2 linked regions of the Homo sapiens genome follow. The protein of the gene in region 2 purifies or fractionates together with the protein of the main gene of each other region. This does not show direct contact. Each region holds a gene or a part of one and is shown on either strand. Other genes may lie near its edges.

What was found. The genes of interacting proteins can lie anywhere in the genome.
Region 1: the proteins of ZNF621 (region 2) and LRP4 purify together in Homo sapiens (affinity purification with mass spectrometry; 3 studies listed by BioGRID and IntAct, with this or other methods). This does not show direct contact.

What each region holds. Positions count from the first base shown.
Region 1 is NC_000011.10:46,915,551-46,923,299, reverse strand, and holds the start of LRP4 (low-density lipoprotein receptor-related protein 4 precursor), read left to right. Parts: upstream 1-4,749; 5' UTR 4,750-4,920; coding exon 4,921-4,972; intron 4,973-7,749. UniProt on the Homo sapiens protein: Mediates SOST-dependent inhibition of bone formation. Functions as a specific facilitator of SOST-mediated inhibition of Wnt signaling.
Region 2 is NC_000003.12:40,527,951-40,534,973, forward strand, and holds part of ZNF621 (zinc finger protein 621), read left to right. Parts: intron 1-1,368; coding exon 1,369-1,495; intron 1,496-1,544; coding exon of another isoform or gene 1,545-1,625; intron 1,626-2,258; coding exon 2,259-2,366; intron 2,367-4,079; coding exon 4,080-5,140; 3' UTR 5,141-7,023. UniProt on the Homo sapiens protein: May be involved in transcriptional regulation.

The DNA of each region.
Region 1 (7,749 bases), on a different chromosome or scaffold from region 2:
TTAAAAAAGCACAGAAATGCAAATGACACTATTCTCTCAGGCTTTCACGCTTTCACTGTTTCTGGTCTTCAGTAGTAGCCCCCTGAACCTAGATAAAAGCAAATCTGTTGCTGAAAGTTAGTAAAACTTTTCCTTACATTCTATGAGGTCTTTCCTGGCTCAAGGCCTTTGCACACACTGTTCCTTCTGCCTGGAAGGCCTCATCCACTCCTAGCCTGATGGCTTTTACTCAGCTTAGGTGTCAGTGCCTCTGGCAGGCCTTCCTCGAACCCCCAAACCTAAGTCCAGTCTTTCCTTTCATAGAACCCTGTACTTTTCCCTCAAAGCCTCTAACATTTGTAACTTCAAATTCATTTGTGGGAGCATTTTTTAAATGCTTCTGCAAACTTGCAGCCCCCTTCAACCATCAGACTGTAAGTTCCAGGGACCCAATATATTTATTTGTTCATCATTGCCTCAGAGTGCCTGGCGCATAATATACCCTTTATAAGTAGTTACTGAGTAAGCGAATCCTGAAATTAAGCCTCTCTAAAGCAAATAGGTATAGGATTCTATTAGTCCCCTTAGCTGTGCCTTCTCTTCTAAAGTTTTAAGAACTGGCCGGGCGCAGTGGTTCACGCCTGTCATCCCAGCACTTTGGGAGGCCAAGGTGAGCGGATCACTGGAGACCAGCATGGACAACATAGTGAAACCCTGTCTCTACTAAAAATACAAAAAAAAATTAGCCAGGTGTGGTGGTACATGCCTGTAATCCCACCTACTGGAGAGGCTGAGGCACAAGAATTCCTTGAACCCAGGAGGCGGAGGTTGCAGTGAGCTGAGATCAGGCCAACCTGGGGCCCAGAGGCAGAGACTGCAGTGAACTGAGATCAGGCCAACCTGGGGCCCAGAGTGAGACTCCGTCTCAAAAAACAAAAAACAAAATAAAACAACAACAACAACAACAACAAAAACTTATCTCCATTCACATTGCCTTCAACAAGAAAGTGATTCTGGAAATAAGATAGAGTAATTCTTTGCAGTCTCATGTTTTAATCTTTTAAAGCAGTTTCTCAACCTTGGCACTATTAACATTTTGGGATGGATAATTCTTTGTTGTGGGGGATGCCCTGCTCACTGTAGAAAGTTAAGCACCATCTTTGAAAGTTAAGCACCATCTTTGGCCTCTATTCATTAGATGCCAGTAACATCAACTCCCCAAAATTGCCGGGTGCAGTGGTGCACACCTGTAGTTCTAACTACTTGGGAGGCTGAGGCAGGAGGATCACCTGAGGCCAAGAGTTCAAAGCAGCAGTGTGCTGTAGTTGTGCCTGTGAATAGTCACTGCACTCCAGCCTTGGTAACAGTGAGACCCTGTCTCTAAAAGAAAAAGCATGGTGGCTCACACCTGTAATCTCAGCACTTTGGAAGGCCGAGGTGGGCAGATCACCTGACATCAGGAGTTTGAGACCAGCCTCGTCAACATGGTGAAACCCCATCTCTACTAAAAATGCAAAAATTTGTCGGGCATGGTGGTGCATGCCTGTAATGCCAGCTACTCAGGAGGCCGAGGCAGAAGAATCGCTTGAACCCGGGAGGCAGAGGTTGCAGTAAGCCTACATTGCACCACTGCACTCCAGCCTGGGCAACAGAGTAAGACTACGTCTCAATAACATAAAACAAAATAAAATAAAATAAAAGGGAAGAAGAAAAGAAAGAGAGAAAGGGAGAAAGGGAGGGAAGGAGGAGGAAAGGAAGGAAGGAAGGAAGGAAGAAAGGAAGTCTTTAGATGTTGCCCCATGCCTGCCAATTCACCTGTGGTTGAGAACCACTGTGTTGAAGTGTGAAACTTCAGGCCTTATTCTCTTGTAGAAGAATTACATATAGAAATTCAGGTTGTTGAATGATTCCCGGGTTATAAGAGAATTCTACCAACCCAGTTGGATCAAAATAGTGCCCACCCCTATCTTGTTTCCGTAGCACTCCCTGCGTTTCCTTTGAAAAGACCATTAGTGATGGTCTAATTCAGGGAAATATTCTGATCTTGGGAAGAAAGAATGCTGGGCTGTTCTAGAAAGATGAAGGAAAGGGGTGGTGTTTCTGAGGAAACCAACGCCTCTGAGACCCCTCTGGAATTGGCAGTCCCCTACAACTTTTCTAGGGGCATGTCCCAGAGGACAGTGAAAGGGAGACAAACAGCCCATTCTGGCCTGCTTTTCAGGATCTCTCACTCCAAACAAGAAAGTCTGAGAGGCCTGGTAAAAATAAATATGGCTTAGTACTCCTGGCACAAGAGCAGTCTCTGACAGCCAAGACTTAACTCACCCTAGGGGGTGACCCAGACAGGGACTATGCACGAAGCTAGTTTCTTACCCATTGATATTCCCAGTGACTCACAGCAGCCAGGGATGACTCTGTGCACCAGAACTGTGCTGAACCGTGGAGAAGGACTTGGGATGCACATAGGAAACAGTCTCTCAAGCTGAGTCAGACAGGGACAGCCCGCCTCTCGTTTCTTCTCCAATTCCAGAAAAACAACACAAATCATGCCTCTGGAAAGGAACCTGTCCTTTGCATACAGAGTGGAAACTGTTTATAACTTCTTAATCCCCTGACATTGAAAGTATGGGGACTGCCTATCCTGGATTTCTTTGGGACAACTGTACTGGCTCTACCACAAGTCCCTAGTTTTCAGCTGGAAAAAAATATGGTCTCCAGAATCCCAAGGTCATTCCCAACAGATTTAAAAGCAAGTCTTCGGCCAGGCAGAGTGGCTCACGCCTATAATCCCAGCACTTTGGGAGGCCGAGGCGGGTGGATCACCTGAGGTCAGGAGTTCGAGACCAGCCTGACCAACATGGAGAAACTCCGTCTACGAAAAATACATTAGCCGGACGTGATGGCGCATGCCTGTAATCCCAGCTACCCTACTCGGGAGGCTGAGGCAGGAGAATCGCTTGAACCCGGGAGGCCGAGGTTGCAGTGAGCTGAGATGGCGCCATTGCACTCCAGCCTGGGCAACAAGAGTGAAACTCCGTCTCAAAAAAGAAAAAAAAAGAGCAAGTCTTCATAAGCAACATATATGAAACCCTGAGACCAACCAAACCTGCATTAGGAAATGAGAGGTGGGAAGGAGGATGCTGGGGAATCAGCCTCTACTTTTGACGTTTTTTCCTCCTTGGATTTTAGGCTGTGGTAACTGATCGAGGCCAGAAATGTTGACAGTCTTGCCTAGCCCCAAGATCATGTAAGCCTGACCTGACGCTACTGCCGCCTTCAGTCAGCAAGAAGAACTACACACCCAGAAAATGCTTCAGTAATAGTTACCATGGTGATGCTAGTTCAACCACATTGCATCTGGATAAAAATTTCAGGCAAAACGATATAGAAAACTACTGCCTAACAAGGAGTTAACACCTTACATCTTTTATGTTGTTGTTGTTGCTGTCGCAAAGTATGGTTCATGTTAGCTTTGGTAAAAGATGGTAATTTGAAGTGAAAGTACTGAAAAAAACAAGCAAGGATGAAATGTCAATGTATCCATTTAGAGAAATCTAATAACCACTTTGCACTATGCCAAATTACTTTCCCCTCAGCTAACAGGGGGCATTTGGGTCTTCCTGACTCTATTTACTGGTGAGGAAAGTGAGTTAATGAAATCCATAGATGATCCAAGCCCAAGAAATGCTGGCATATCAGCTGGGAGGGAAAAAAGCGATATACTGGGCCATCAGAAAGTTGGGCATTTGGGCAAAAGGAACAAAACAAGATTCAACCTGGAAAAATGGAAGGTGGTGAAATTAATCCGTATTATTAATATGCATTAGGGAGAGTAGACCACAAAAGGAAGGAAGACTAGAGACAAGTTTATGATTTTATGCAGTAAATCAAAAGTTAAATCTGAGGGAAGGACCTACAGACTGGGGCTGGAAGGAGGCTGAGGGCTTTGTGGGAGTGCAGCTGCCCATGAGGACTCCTTTCCTGACCCCCTCCCTTCCTTGTCAGGATCAGAAAGTCAAAGAAGGTGAAGAGGCTAACAACAGTGATTTACAAAGACAGCAAGGAGGAACTAAGTCTGTATGGGCCGAATCTGGGCCTCTGAGCTGGAGCAACAGGACCCAGACAACCATCTCAGGAAATGAGTGAATGAAAAGGGGCGGGGGGGTCGGTGAATTATTTAGCCCTAGAACAACGCTGCCTAGACCGGGGGAGGCCAGGGAGAAGAAAATCTCCGAAAAGGAATTTTGACAGTGAGAACGCCAGTTAAGATACAGCACTCCAGGCCCCCTGATGTCCCTTGTTTGATGTCAATAAAGACCCAAGAGGATTATGCATCCACAAGCCTTGCGTATTCGCAGACATCAAAAAAGTCTGGACTTGGGGCCGGTAGGCGGGGGCAGGGTCACGTCCAGGCGACTTGGGTCAGCTCAGGTGCTCGTCTGAAGCATAGAGCTGGAGTGAGCGGGGGCGAGACTTGCTGCTAGGATAATTTTTTTTTTTTAAGTTAGGGAAATTTAAGCAGTAGTAATAGCGACAGGGAGGGGGCTCTCTCTCGGGCCAGGAATGTGGGGGCGGCCTGAGGAGGAGCGGGGCCCCGCGCAGGAGGCGCCGGCGGGTGGGGTCGGGGGACCAGGGAGCCGGGGCCGAGGGCGGGAAGGGGCCGGGCCGGCGCTGGGGGCGGGCCCAGGCGCGGTGGCGGTGGCCGGGGCTGCGGCGCGGGGGGCGGGGCGGTCGGGCCCGGGACACCCCCTCCCGGTCCCCTGGCGGGGCAGCGTCGGCTCTGGCAGCACTGGAGGCGGCGGCGGCCCGAGGGCGACTTGCGGGGCGCGCAGGCCGCCGTGCACCCGGGACGCTTCCCCCTCGGGGACCCTCCGCGGGCTTCTCCGCCGCGCCGTCCGGCGGGAGCCGGCGGGACCCCGGGCGAGCGGCGCGGGCGGCACCATGAGGCGGCAGTGGGGCGCGCTGCTGCTTGGCGCCCTGCTCTGCGCACACGGTAAGCGGCGCCCGCCGGGAAAGTTTGTCCCTGGGTCCGGCCGCTGCAGGACTCGCCTCCCGGGACCTGGACGGCGCGGGCCGGGGCCTGAGACCCCTCGCCCTCGCTCCTAGCCGTGGCCCTGGGGCTGCGTGCAGGGGAGAGGACCCGGAGCGGCCCCGGCTCCAGCAGTCCGAGCGGGGGCATCAGCGGAGGCGCTTCCGCGGGTTCGGGTCTGGGCCGGGGCGCGGGTCTGGGCCGGGGCGCGGGTAAGGTCCGGGGCGTTCGTTCGCTCGCCCTCCCTCGCTGCTCTTTCAAGAGCGGGGGCTGCTTCCCTTTCAGGTTAGGTCGGGGGCTCTGTGTCCTTGGTGCGAATGAATGCGTGCGAAGAAAGGGAGGCGGGTGAGGAGGGTCGCTAAACCCATAAATTGTAAATAGCCCTCCTTCCTGGGGCTGGGGGCTCGGGCGGGTTGCGGAGAGAGGCCCCGGTAGAATCTGGTACTTGGGCACCGGGATTCCTCTACTCGGAGAACGATTCCCGGACTCCAGGTCTTGCTCCCACCAAGGGGCTCTGGGGCACTGTTTGCGGGCAGCATCTCCCCTCGGCGGTGTTTCGGGGTCCCTCTCTTGGCTGCGGCCAGTCAGCTTCCAGCCCTGGATCGTCCTAAAGGGAGGTGGTTGGAAAGGGGGCTGAGGAGGAATATAGGGAAGAAACTGCTGGAAGGCTCCCGCAGATCTGCCCTGGCTGGGGTAGGGGGGCAGGGGGCCGGTAACCCTGAACCCCAGAAGGCAGCCGCCGGGCCCTCGCGGCAGGGTCCCAGCCCTCGGGGGAGCTGGACGGCTGCAGCAGGACTCCTTGGTGCCCGTACCCCCTGTTGTGTGGGACTAGGGCTCCGATGGAATCTGCTTCTCCGCGGGCTCTTAACGACCCTGGGTGCACCCCGTGATTGAGCAGCTTTCCCTAGTTTGTGCCCAGAGATCAAAGAACTTTGATCTTTGAACCCCAGCCCTATTCACCCATCGCTATTCATCGTGGCGGGAGTTCCGAGTCTCCCCATTTGCCTCGCAGCCCCGATGAAGGGAGCTGGGGCTCAGAATGGAGGGGTCTGGAGACCCTGCCTGGTCTTTTACCGGTTCTTTCTTTCACGTAGGACAGCTCGTGTGGAAAAAGTCAGTGCAGATTTCCGAACTTGCCTGGCAGGGCGTGGAGATGTCTAGGCACTCGTTTTAAAGATTGGTTTACCTCCCAAATCCAAAACAGAGTTTTCATGTCTCTTATTTAAACTACCTGTGGGTTTTCAGGGGCTTTTTTCCGCGTCCTCTCTAGCGCGGACTGAGCTCTTTCTCTCCGAAGAGCGGTAGCTTGGCCGGCCCACGTTCCGCTCCGCTCTGCGCTCTCCCCTCCCCGGCTCTCTCCTGGAAGGTTATTTGTAGCCTCTTTGGCGTGTTGGGACAGCGGCCCTACTGGGGTAGGAATGTAGCTGTTCTTCCCACCACATGGGCCCCTTAAAGGGACAGCTTTGCTTTTTGGGGGGTTTCCCCCTTCGGGTTGCAAGGAAAGGGGATGGAACTTTCCTCTCAGCCCCCTGGAGGAAGTTTTGAAAAAGATCAAGGGAAATGGCAAGGCACTGGGAAAAAAAAAAAAAATTAGGGTTAAAACGGATACCAACAAAGCCAGAGAGGAGATTGTCGCCTTCTGCCCTAGGGAAGGGGGAGCTGGAAGGTTCCGGGCTGAGACTGGCCAAGAAGATTTTACTGCTCCAGAGCTGTCAACGCTGCAAATATTACATGTGCATAGAGGATGGGGGTGAGAATGGGGGGAGAGAATTGCGTATGTCTAATGTTTCACAGAAAAAGAATGGGAGGATTCGCGGTAACGCTTTTAGGTTTCTTTCTCTTTTTTTTCTTGGAGAGGGTGTCTCACTCTGTTGCCCAGGCTGGAATGCAGTGGGGCAATCATAGCTCACTACAGCCTCGACCTCCCAAGCTCAAGTGATCTTGTCATCTCAGCCTCCTGAGTAACTGGGACTACAGGCATGCACCACCATACCCTACAAATTTTTGTTTTTTTTTCTAGAGATGGGGTTTCACCATGTTGCCAAGGCTAGTCTCCAACTCCTGGGCTCAAGTGATCCACCTGCCTCGGCCTCCCAAAGTGCTGGTATTACAGGTGTGAGCCACTGTGTCCGGCCCAGGTTTCTTTTTAAGGAAAAAAGTTTAATAGAAACGTCTAAGCATGGGAAGCTTTCTGTGCACATGTTTGTAAGGGTAGGCAGTGGGGTGAAGGTATACACATCACCTGGCCTGATACTGAGCCATCCTTGGAGGTCTGGGGGGTCAGATTCACAGTTCACCAGTAAGATTGAGCAGTTTCAGAGCCTGGAACCAGCACAACCAAAAATACCACCAAAACATCTTTTGGACTGACACTCAATTCCAGGGGCTCAGGGAGACAGCAGTTGTGATAAATGTAGTAGTAGATCCATTAGGCAGACCTGACCTCAGCAAGGCATGAATTAAAGACACTAAAGTTTAAGGTGATTTTGGGAGGCTGAGACTAGCGGATCACTTCAGGTCAGGAGTTCAAGACCAGCCTGGCCAACATGGCAAAACCCCATCTCTACTAAAAATACAAAAATTAGCCAGGCACAGTGGCACATGCCTGTAGTCCCAGCTACTCGAATGGATGAGGCAGGAGAATTGCTTGAACCTGGGAGGCAGAAGTTGCAATGAGCCAAGATCACTCCCCTGCACTCTAGCCGGGGCGACAGAGTGAGACTCTATCTTAATAAATAAAT
Region 2 (7,023 bases):
TTAATATTCCACACCAGAGTAACACGTTTGTGACAAGGAGTGAACCTACACTAACACATCATTGTCATCCAAAGTTGATAGTTTACATTAGGGTTCACTCTTGATGGATGACACATATCCACTATTATAGTATTATATAAGCAGAATAGTTTCACTGCCCTAAAAATACCTTATGCTCCTCTTATCCATCCTTACTTTCCCCTTAGTCCCGTCCCAATTGACAACCATCAATTGATTTTTGTATTCTCTTCATAGTTTTGCCAGTTCCAAAATGTCATATAGCCAGAATCACACAGTACGTAGCATTTTCAGATTGACTTCTTTCATTTAGTGGTAATGCATTTCGTTTCCTCTGTGTCTTTTCATGGCTTGATAGATCGTTTTGTTTTAGTGCTGAATAATATTCCATTGTCTATATATACTACAGCTTATCCATTCACCTACTGAAGGACATCTCGGTTGCTTCCAAGTTTTGGCGATGATGAATAAAAGCCCCTGTAAATGTCCATGTACAGGTTTTTATGTGGACATAAGTTTTCAACTCCTAAATTTAGTTAAGCACCAAGGAGCATGACTGCTGGGTTGTATGGTAAGAGTGTGTTTAGTTTGTAAGAAATTGACGAACTGTCTTCCAAAGTGGCTGTCCCATTTCGCATTCATTAGCACCAGCAGTGAATGAGAGTTCTGTTGTTTCACATCCTGGCCAGCATTTGGTGTTGTCAGTGTTTTGGATTTTGGCCTTTCTAATAGGTATGTAGTGGTGTCTCACTGTTTTTATTGCAATTCCCTAATGACATATAATCTTGAGCATAGTTTCATATGCCTATTTGCTATCTGTATATTTGCTTTGTTGAGGTGTCTGTTGAGGTCTTTTGCCTGTTTCTTAATTGGCTTGTTCATAAAGAGTTCTTTGTACATTTTGGATAATAGTGCTTTATCAGATATGTCTTCAGCAAATATTTTCTCCTAGACTTTAGCATGTCTTCTCATTTTCTTAATGTGTTATCCTTTTAAAATACAGTTTAATTCCCCCTCATTTTGTTTTCAGTTGTTTTCTCCAAAACATTGTTTGCTAGTTTTTCACACATGCCTGTAATCTCAGCCTGGGTGCCAAGCTGTAAGAATCAGCAGCAGTTACGGGCTCCAGAGCTGGGTAGATGGGAGAGTGTTGGGGCTCCCCATTTGAAAGTGGAACTACTGGCTGAGGGCTCGCCCCTGGCTGTGGTGGTGGGTGTTCTTGTTGAGCAGACCTTACATGGGGCTCAGAGTTGTGGATGCAGGCAGGTTTATCCCTTCCCTGAAGCTCAAGCTGCTCCCTTCTTCCTTCTACTTCTCACTCAGAGATTGAGCAGGAACCTGTTGTTTCAGGAGTCAGTGACCTTTGAGGATGTGGCTGTTTACTTCACCCAGAATCAATGGGCCAGCCTCGACCCTGCGCAGAGGGCCCTGTACGGGGAGGTGATGCTGGAGAATTATGCAAATGTGGCTTCTCTGGGTAAGGCCTCCCTCTGTGGCCCTTTGTAACAGTTTGCTATCTTCCTCAGATGTTTTGGGGATTCTAGTAGCCCTTGGGTTTGATGACTTCAGAGGAGAGTTTTGCAATCAGCAGCCTCCAGAAATACTGGGTAGGGAAATCCTTGGTTCTCTTTGTTTTTTGTTTGTTTGTTTGTTTTGTTTGTTTGTTTGTTTTGAGACAGAGTCTCGCTCTGTCACCTAGGCTGGAGGGCAGTGGCATAGCCATGGCTCACTGCAGCCTCCAACTCCTGGGCTCAAGCAATTCTCCTATTTCAGCCTCCCAAGTAGCTGGGACTATAGGCGTGTGCCACTGTGCCTGGCTTCTCTTTGGTTTTGAAATTAGACTTCCTTATACTCCAGGAACAGTGTGGTCCTGGGCCCTGAGGGAAAGCATTCTTTCTGGCACCCTAAGTGAGCCCTTTGTTCCTTTGTCCATCCAGTTTTCTGGGGATGTTGGCCCTCCCTTTGTGGAAGGTTCTCCCAGGGGAGCAGTAGGTACATTTTTCCTGAGGGAGTTTGCCTTCTTCTGAGTCAGGGCCAGAATGCAGTTTCTTTCTGAGAAGAATCATACCTCCTTGGCTTTATCGTGGAGCACAGTTTGGACCTCCTTGTCAGAACTCTCACTTGGTCTGCTGGTGTTCAATTTCTCTCCCAAGTAGCCTGATGGAGGGTGGGCTGAGAAAGATCCCAGGAATAGCTCTGGACGTCTCCCCTCAATTTGTCTTTCTCTTTTCTTCATGAAGTAGCGTTTCCATTCCCCAAACCTGCTCTGATCTCCCACCTGGAGAGAGGGGAAGCACCATGGGGCCCAGATCCCTGGGACACCGAGATTCTGAGAGGCATCAGTCAAGGTGAGTATGAGAATCCAGTGGTGAAGTTTCTTGTTTTGCCTTCCTGGTTTACTAGGTAAGAAGTGTTTCTTATGCTGCAGGGTACAAATCTCCCAGTTATTTATAAGTCGATACTCACTGTACTCTCTGACCTCACACTGAGTTCTGACCCTGAGCTTTGAAAGACCACCTCTGGGAGTACATGGCCTCATGCTGTCTGCACATTCATGTGGCTATCCTCCAAGGCAGAAAAGCTGTGACCCAGTAGCTCCTAAACCACTTCTTTCTTACTTACTGGTGGAAAAGTTTTAATTGTATGCCATTTTTCATTGCAAAGAAGTGGGGTTTCAGCCAAATTTAAGGAAAATATGATTTTTTGGGGCCAAACTGATTTATTTGTGCTATAGCTATAAATTTTACTTTAGGCCTTCAGCCCTGAAAAGAATGGCTTTAATTTGCCTTTTTAGTATCTAAATCACTTAAGAGTTTCATTTGCCATAATCTTTAGATCTACATTATATTTACCATAGATGGGACTGTAGAGGAAAGGGCTAGGAATATTCTCCCATCATAGCCCCCTACGCACACACATGCATACACACAAACACATGCACACACGCACATGTGCACACACACACCACCTAAAATTTCCCTGAGATGGCTTACCAGTCCTGGAAGGTTTTGTTTACTTGCGTTTCCATTTCTTCAGAAGAAAATTTTCAAGCCTTCTCACACATTTATGCTTTTGTATATAGTGGTTCCTTTAGCACAGGTACCACAGTGGCTTACAGCTCTCTGATCCAACTTCTGTTCCAGCTGACTTTCTGAAACTAATCATCTTGTATCCCTGAATATTGTGTGGGATATTTAAATATAGGATAATTAGGACATTGTTTAGAATTTGGGGTGATTGCCTGGGTTACAGGTAGGGCTTTGGGATCTAGTTTTTTCCTGGTTTGTGTTTCTCAGTCTGCAAGACCTCTTGTAGTGCTGGAGCTGCTTCTCTATTCTTCCCAGTCTCTCATTCCTTTCTCCTCTTCTGGGTTTCTGTCTCTCTTTAAACATTTTTCACATTTCTCACTGTTCTTTCTTATTCTCTCCTTCTTTTTTCTTTTTTGTCCCTCCTACCTTCTTTCCTTCTCATTCTTGATTCTCCTTCTTCCCATCACCTACCTTAGTTCAATTTTCCAGCCTTCCTCGTGGGGAGCACTTCCTGGCTATCTTTCCTGTTCCATTTCTGTGTCTTTACTTCTCCAATTCTATGTCATTATTTTTCTATTTTTTTAAGACAGGGTCTAGCTCCGCTGCCCAGGCTGAAGTGCAGTGGCATGATCTCCACTCACTGCAACCTCTGCCTCCCGGGCTTAAGTGATCCTCCCACCTCAGCCTCCCTAGTAGCTAGGACCACAGGGGTGCGCCACCATGCCCGGCTAATTTTTGTATTTTTTTGTGGAGATGGGGTTTCACCATGTTGCCCAGTCTGGTCTCGAACTCCTGAGCTCAAGCCATCCGCCTGCCTCAGCCTCCCAAAGTGCCAACATTACAGGCATGAGCCACCACACCTGGCCTGTCATTATTTTTCTTTGTCTCTCTCATCCTCCTTTATAGATGCTTGTATATAACCATTTCACAGGTATCTTTAAAAATTACATTCTACAAGAGAAAATTAGGAACACTGGATCCTACTTTTCTTCCAGTTTTGTAACTAGGAACACTTGTGGTTTCTTTGGTCAGGTGGTGAGTCCTGGATCAAAAATGAAGGGCTAGTTATAAAGCAGGAAGCCTCTGAAGAAACAGAGTTGCACAGAATGCCAGTAGGAGGACTTCTCAGGAACGTTTCTCAGCACTTTGATTTTAAAAGGAAGGCACTGAAGCAGACTTTCAATCTAAATCCAAATCTGATACTTCGAGGTGGAATGAAGTTCTATGAATGTAAAGAATGTGGGAAAATCTTCCGATATAACTCAAAGCTTATTCGGCATCAGATGAGTCATACTGGGGAAAAGCCCTTTAAGTGTAAGGAGTGTGGCAAAGCTTTCAAGTCCAGCTATGATTGTATTGTACATGAGAAAAACCACATTGGAGAAGGGCCCTATGAATGTAAGGAGTGTGGCAAAGGTTTGAGTTCCAACACAGCCTTGACTCAACATCAGAGGATCCACACTGGAGAGAAACCCTATGAATGTAAAGAGTGTGGAAAGGCTTTCCGTAGGAGTGCGGCATACCTGCAGCATCAGAGATTACACACGGGAGAGAAACTCTATAAATGTAAGGAATGTTGGAAAGCTTTCGGTTGTAGGTCACTTTTTATTGTCCATCAGAGAATTCATACTGGGGAGAAACCTTATCAATGTAAGGAGTGTGGCAAAGCCTTCACCCAGAAAATAGCCTCCATTCAGCATCAGAGAGTTCACACTGGGGAGAAGCCTTATGAATGTAAGGTGTGTGGGAAAGCCTTCAAATGGTATGGAAGTTTTGTTCAGCATCAGAAATTGCACCCTGTGGAGAAGAAGCCAGTCAAGGTCCTTGGGCCATCCCTGGTCAGTCCCCAGTGCTCCTCTCCAGCCATACCTCCTGTTCTTCTCCAGGGATCCTGTTCTGCTTCAGCCGTAGCTGTGCCTTCACTGACCTTTCCACATGCTGTGCTCATTCCTACCTCTGGGAATTTTTTCATGCTGCTGCCTACATCTGGAATACCTTCTTCATCTGCCCAAATAGTGCGTGTCTTCCAGGGTCTTACTCCCACTGTGAAACCTTCCCCAGTTATTCTCACCCCTTCTTCTCACTCCTCATGAGCTTTATCTTGGCAGTCTTACGGCTCTTATGCCTAGCAAATCTCCAGCCTAATTTTATATATTTTTTTGAGAAAGGGTCTTGCTCTGTCACCCAGGCTAGAGTGCGGTGGTGTGATCTTGGCTCACTGCAACCTCCCCCTCCTGGGTTCAAGCGATTCTCCTCCTTCAGACTCTCGAATAGCTGGGATTACAGGCACGCCTCACCACGCCCAGCTAATTTCTGTATTTTTAGAAGAGATGGGGTTTCGCCATCTTGGCCAGGCTGGTCTCAAACACCTGACCTCAAGTGATCCGCCTGCCTTGGCCCCCCAAAGTGCTGGGATTACAGGAGTGAGCCACTGTGCCCAGCCTCCAACCTAATTTGAGTTTCATTTGTATTTTTTTCATCACCTTACATGTGTTAACAGCTGTTTCAACATAAACTCCATTATAATCTATATACATTTAAAGACCGTGTTTACATAATCTCTTCTGGGTAGAAAATGGAAATACTTAACCTTTGCATTGGTCCCTTTCAGGCTTGAACAACAGTGGCTGTATCTGCATCGTGGGGTTGCTGGTGGTAGAACACTTTGGTGTTAGGAAAGTTTGGAAAAGAGGATATCCCTGTATTAGGCCATTATGATTAGAGATAAGCAGCCTGGGAGAAACATACAAGACCTGTGGCTACTGGTAGAGAATTGGAATAAGCTTCCAACAATGGACTGTAGAGATTAATGGAGATTGTTTAGTGGGCCCATGGCTAGGTGGGGTATTAATACAGTTGAAGTTATGTTGCCCTTGGCACAGATCTTTGAGAATCTCATACATCTGTGAAAAAGATAATGTGAAATAAACAGTAAAAAAAAAAAGTATGTTGATGGCAGTGAGAGTAATCATGTCTTTAAACGTGAAGTTTTTTTTTCTTTAGTTTTGCTCTTGATAGCTAGATGTTTCTTTTAACTTTTATTTCGTAAGTAAATATACACAAAGGCATTCATCTTTGTTGAATCTGTTGTGCAGATTTTTCTTGATGAGCATTCTGTTTTTTTTTCTTTGTGAGCACTGGCTTCTATATTTTATTTCATATTTATGAATTATAAATATGAATTTAATTACTAAAGAAATAAAAATAATGGTGTAAAGCCAACTCGAGGGGAATCTGAATAAGCTTCCAAAATTTTTTTTTTTAAGAAATAAAGGGAGCTGTGTAGTGGGTCAGTGGCTAGGTAGGTTAGTGAAGTGGAATTTGGGGTTGCTCTTGGAAGTGGCCTTGATGAGGATCCTTTACAACTATTCAGAGGACTGTGTGAAGTAGTTACTGGAAAAAGAACTTGAATTATGCATTTATTGGCATTAATGTAAACAGTAAGTCCTAAGCTTTGATGGAAGGGTCCATACATTTTTTTTTTTTTTTTGCTGATGTTGCTATCTAGATGTTTCTCTATAGCAATTAATAGCAAAACCTTTACATTCTTGGTTTTTAAACTTTACCATGTGTCTGAATTACATAGTGTGCTTGTAAAAAGAAGAGTTTTCTCTCTTGCACAAATTCTGATTTTGGCTATCTGTGGTGATGGCCAGATCTTTAGCATGGACCATACTTTGAGAGATATGCTTCAAACAGAAAATGCCCACCCCTCCTCCTTTACCCAGCATAAACTCTATGGTTAATTCTTAAAATAATGCCTTACAGTCTCCATTAACTCCCTTGCCCTTCTCTTGCTTTGTCATGCTCGCTTGGCAAAACCTCATCTCTGACTAAATGCAGTTCTTTGCCTTCTCTGTTCCTGCACCAAAAATGATCAGGAGAAAGCATATTACCAGGCTGAACTGTCACTTTAAATTCATGACCAGTAACTTCATGGAGGCCCTTAACGTTTCCTGATGGTCATACTACAATT